Linked DNA regions of Homo sapiens: region 1 is linked to region 2. Evidence: fine-mapped expression QTL. Tissue or cell type: blood mononuclear cells. Region 2 holds a variant in brackets; the other region holds the start of a gene. All regions are shown on one strand. Distances are from middle to middle.

Region 1 (2,616 bases), 60 kb before region 2:
GTAAGCCTCCTGCTAAAGCCATTCATTTCTCTGGGGTCTAGAGAATGGCCTTGTGGCTAGAAACAGCTGCAACGCATGCCTGTGGCCAGCAGGTCCCAAGCCCAGTACCATCTGTTATCACCCAGGATCACACCAGCCTTCCCCTTGCTGGGTACCGGCTGGCTGGTTCACACAAAAACCACCTCTGGGTTTGTTTTACAGAACTGCATTCCAAGTCAATTCTCCAAAAGATTTCTTCCACCCAAAGACCCCAACCTTACAATCTTCTTACCCTTGCTGGATGCTTCTGCCCTGTTCTAATGTGCCCGGCGGAGGCTGCTTGGCTGGGAGCTGGACCAACGCTGCGAATCCCACGGATTCTTCTAATTCAAGGGGGGAAATGCTATTTAGACCTGTGAAAGGAGAGTTCGAGCAAGCACCTTGACCGCTACGGAGAGTGGGCTCAGAGCTCTAGTCTAGCATCGTGCCTGGCCCCTGGTTAGGCCTCAGAAAATCTTGGGATGAATGGAGAGGGTTGTGGAACTAGGTGCTGGAGCGGGTTCAGTTCCTCTGCCAAAGAGAGACTTTGGGATTCCTGGGAACGGAATCGGGGAGAGGATGAAGAAGGGCGCCTCGCCTCTATCCTAAGCCCGATGGGAGGAACCTCTGCCGAGCCAGAGCCGGTCTTAACACCACCCTCCGGAGCTGCCACCACTGCCTCACTTCCATATGAGATATAGCGGGAAGGAGGGAGTGGCTGCCTGGCTCGCTTTGATTAGCTTTATAACAAGCGGTCGTTCTGAAATACTCGCTCATGATGGCTAACAGACAACACAATCGCCAAATGTCTTAAGAAAAGGAGCTTTGAGGGTAACCGCCCGCTGGGACCTGAAGGACAATTGCGGATTGTCCTTCAGCCGCATTCTTGGGGCTGACCTGAGTGGGGCACAGCTGAACGTCTGAGCGCAGGCGGCTGGTCCTTGGGCCCGGTACTGGCGGTTCGCGAGGCGGGTTTGGGGAGGGGTGGGGGAATCCTAGGGAGGCGGAGCGCGTACTCCCCCTCGGCGCCCGGGCTCAGGCCCATCCCGCCTCTGCGGCCTCGCCGGCCCCCAGGCCTTGCAGGGGACTACGCCCCTGGCGAGTTCCCAGTCGGCGCGGCCCCTGGTCGGCGGAGCCGCGGAAGCTTGGGCACTGGGGGCGGCTCGGGGAGGAACCGCGGAGGGGAAAGCGCCGCGGGCTGCAAACGGCAGAGGCGCGCGGGGTGGCGACAGTGGCGCGGGCGCAGTGAGCGCGTCCGAGAACAGAATGGGACGAAACGGGGCGCTTAGAGGCCCGGGAATCTGTGGGTCTTTTAGGCGGAGAGGGGCGAAGGAGGTTATTCGTTTTGGGGAAGGTCATGGAAACAGCAAAGGCTCAGAGGTGGTGCCTAAAGTGGCTGGAGAAGCTGAACGGTTTGGAACAGAGGCGTGACTTGGAGGGGTAAATGGAGACCAGATTAGGAAGCCTTGGGAGGCACAATCAGGGGTTAAAATCTTGAACAATTCAGAGTTGTTTTATTTTTAAAAATATATAGAAAATGAAATCTACACTTACGTAATAGATAACTTATGAAAAAGTACATGGAATACACATGTTGCAGTCTTGCCAATGTACCTTAATGTAGCAGTTTCTCCTTGTCTGGACTGATACCCGGGATTCTTTGTCCTACTCCAAGAAAATTAAGGAACGGGACATAAGGTGAGGTGGGAGCGAAAGTTTAATAAGCGAAAGAAGAAAGCTCTCCACAGTGAGCTGAGTATGCAAGTGGATTGCCCTGTTACAGCTGAATTCAAAAGCTTTTGCAAGAAAATCTCTTATCTCTGTAGTAGTTTGAGTAACTTCTCTTATCAGTAAAGCTGTCTTACGCAGCTGTGGTTATGTATCTATGCAAGCACAAAGCACCGCCTTTTTTGTTTGCATAACTGTGGGTTTGTTTTAGGTAAGCCCCCCTCCTCCCTGTGAAAGTTCCCACCATGTATATGCCTGAAAAGGGGAGAAAACTTTCCTGGGAGCTCCCTAATTATACAAAGAACAAAAGGCTTCTGTGCTGGACCCTGTCTGCTTATCTGTGTGCAGGTGGAGCCTGAGTTTTTTACCAGGTTGTTTTATTTTTGCCTGTTGCTGTGACTTTTCAGGCAGGCCGCTTCTGCATTGAGTCTTCCCCAACTGATTTTCTCTTTCCTTCTCTCTCGCACACAGTTAGGAAACATAATGTAATTACTACCCATGACAAAACCATCCTACGTAAGAAATGGAACATTCCTAGTACAGATGCTCCCCACCTATGGATTCCTTCCTTATCCCTTCTCCCTCTGCACGCCCAACGTCTATCCTGACCTTTGTGTCTGTCATACCCTCACTTTTTAAAATAGTTTTTTAAATCGCTTCTTTGTATCCCTAATACATCACTTTGTTTTGCTTCTCTGAAACTTTATAAAAATGGTGCTATGGTCTGGGTGTTTGTGACTCCATAAAATTCATGTGCTAGAATTCTAACCCCCAAAGTGATGGTATCAGGAGATGGGCCCTTTGGTCATGAGTGGGATTCATAAGAGCCCTTATAAAGGAGGTCCTGCAGAGCTACCTAGCCACTTCCAC
Region 2 (2,759 bases):
GGATCTGTCTCTAGCCCATCAAAGAAAGGTGAGAGGTGACAGCGTGCTGGCAGTCCTCACAGCCCTCGCTCGCTCTCGGCGCCTCCTCTGCCTGGGCTCCCACTTTGGTGGCACTTGAGGAGCCCTTCAGCCCACCGCTGCACTGTGGGAGCCCCTTTCTGGGCTGGCCAAGGCCGGAGCCCACTCCCTCAGCTTGCAGGGAAGTGTGGAGGGAGAGGCACGAGCGGGAACCGGGGCTGCGTGCGGCACTTGCTGGCCAGCTGGAGTTCCGGGTGGGCGTGGGCTTGGCGGGCCCCGCACTCGGAGCAGCCAGCCGGCCCTGTCGGCCCCGAGCAATGAGGGACTTAGCACCCGGGCCAGCGGCTGCAGAGGGTGTACTGGGTCCCCCAGCAGTGCCAGCCCACTGGCGCTGCACTCGATTTCTCGCTGGGCCTTAGCTGCCTTCCCAGGGGGCAGGCCTCGGGACTGCAGCCTGCCATGCCTGAGCCTTCCCCCACCTCCGTGGGCCCCAGTGCACCCCGAGCCTCCCCGACGAGCGCTGCCCCCTGCTCCACAGCACCCAGTCCCATCAATCACCCAAGGGCTGAGGAGTGTGGGCGCACGCGCGGGACTGGCAGGCAGTTCCACCTGCAGCCCCGGTGCAGGATCCACTGGGTGAAGCCAGCTGGGCTCCTGAGTCTGGTGGGGACGTGGAGAACCTTTATGTCTAGCTCAGGGATTGTAAACACACCAATCAGCACCCTGTGTCTAGCTTAGGGTTTGTGAGTGCACGAATCATCACTCTGTATCTAGCTGCTCTGTTGGGGCCTTGAAGAACCTTTATTTCTAGCTCAGGGATTGTAAATACACCAATCGGCACTCTGTATCTAGCGCAAGGTTTGTAAACACACCAATCAGCGCCCTGTGTTTAGCTCAAGGTTTGTGAATGCACCAATCGACACTCTGTATCTAGCTGCTCTGGTGGGGCCTTGGAGAACCTTTGTGTCCATACTCTGTATCTAACTAATCTGATGGGGATGTGGAGAACCTTTATATGTAGCTCAGGGATTGTAAACGCACCAATCAGCACCCTGTCAAAACAGACCACTCTGCTCTACCAATCAGCAGGATGGGGGCGGGAGGGGCGGGAGGGGCGGGGGCCAGACAAGAGAATAAAAGGAGGCTGCCCGAGCCAGGAGTGGCAACCTGCTCGGGTCCCCTTCCACATTGTGGAAGCTTTGTTCTTTTACTCTTTGCAATAACTCTTGCTACTGCGCGCTTTTTGGGTCCACACTGCTTTTATGAGCTGTAACACTCACCGCGAAGATCTGCAGTTTCTCTCTTGAAGCCAGCAA[G/A]ACCACCAGCCCACCAGGAGGAAGGAACAACTTCAGACGTGCTGCCTTAAGAGCTGTAACACTCACCGCGAAGGTCTGCAGTTTCACTCCTGAGCCAGCGAGACCACGAACCCACCAGAAGGAAGAAACTCCGAACACATCCTAACATCAAAAGGAACAAACTCCAGACGCGCCACCTTAAGAGCTGTAATGCTCACCGCGAGGGTCCGCGGCTTCATTCTTGAAGTCAGTGAGACCAAGAACCCAGCAATTCCGGACACAAAGGGATGTTAAACACAGCTTCTCCTGCCATCTCTGTTTTGGAAAGCGTGCTCAAATTGACCACAACAGCTGTTCTGTTTACACACTCCGAAGTCAAAATCACTAGCCGCATTCTCAGGCTACATGATCTCCATAGTTCCCGGGAGGTGGGCAGTTTTAATACTGTGTGGACGGAAACTAGATTCAGAGTCTAAGCCACTGACCCAAGGTCACACAGCCACTAAGCAAAAGCTCTGGATTCCCTTCCAGTCAATTTGACCTAAAAGTCAGTTTTCTGGGCCAGGCCACTGGAATGTTCTCTGATGAGACTTGCATGGGCAGTCTCACTCGCAGCCTTGCTTGATGTCCCAGGACAGCTCCTGTCTGCCCACTGCAGATTTCGCAGGCTCAGGCCTTGGAGCAGCATCACTCAGTGCAAGCTTGAAGCTGTGGGCAGAAAGGTCAGGAGCTGCTCAGCCCCCCATTCTCTCACTTCCTGTGAAGAAATTGGTGGGACCAAAGATGGCGGATGCACCCCGGAAGCATCCTCCAGGGGGAGACCTGTGCTTCCCTGGGGCGGTGGAGGGAGTAAGTGTTCAGGGCAGCCACTTGTCAGGGTGAGAGCTATGCTGAGAGCACCTGGAGAATCTTCCTGGCTAGCAGACAGCCACCTTCTCACTAGATCCTCACGTGGTGGAGAGAGTGCCAGCTCTGGTCTCTTCCTTTTCTTTTTTTCTTTTTTTTTTTTTTTTTTCTGAAACAGGGTCTCATTCTGCCGCCCAGGCTGGAGTACAATGGCATGATCTTGGCTCACTGCAACCTCTGCCTCCCGGGTTCAAGCAATTCTCGTGCCTCAGCCTCCCGAGTAGCTGAGATTACAGGCACCTGCCTCCACGCCTGGCTAATTTTTGTATTTTTAGTAGAGATGGGGTTTCACCACGTTGGCCAGGCTGGTCTCGAACTCCTGACCTCAGGTGATCCTCCCACCTTGGCCTCCCAAAGTGCTGGGATTACAGGCATGAGCCACTGTGCCCGGTCTAGTCTCTTCCTTTTCATATAAGAACACTAAATCCATCCTAGAGGCTCTACCCTCACAACCTAATTACCTCCCAGTGACCCCACCTCCAATACCATCCCACAGGTGGGTTAGAGTTCAACATATGAATTTGGAGTGTGAGAGAAACA

The links. PIP is the estimated chance that this variant, and not a neighbour inherited with it, causes the effect.
Region 1: PLAAT5 starts here. The variant in region 2 is fine-mapped to the expression of PLAAT5 in blood mononuclear cells (TOPMed, PIP above 0.99).

The regions. Positions count from the first base shown.
Region 1 is chr11:63,489,972-63,492,587 of GRCh38, forward strand. It overlaps PLAAT5 (phospholipase A and acyltransferase 5), which reads right to left and starts at 1,196. Exons shown (of 6, transcript NM_001146729.2): 1 at 916-1,196; 2 at 272-362. The coding sequence starts at 1,063.
Region 2 is chr11:63,549,994-63,552,752 of GRCh38, forward strand. No RefSeq gene overlaps it. Among named protein-coding and RNA genes, the nearest start is that of PLAAT2, 12 kb to the right of the region's middle. The variant G/A (reference allele first, on the strand shown) is at 1,335.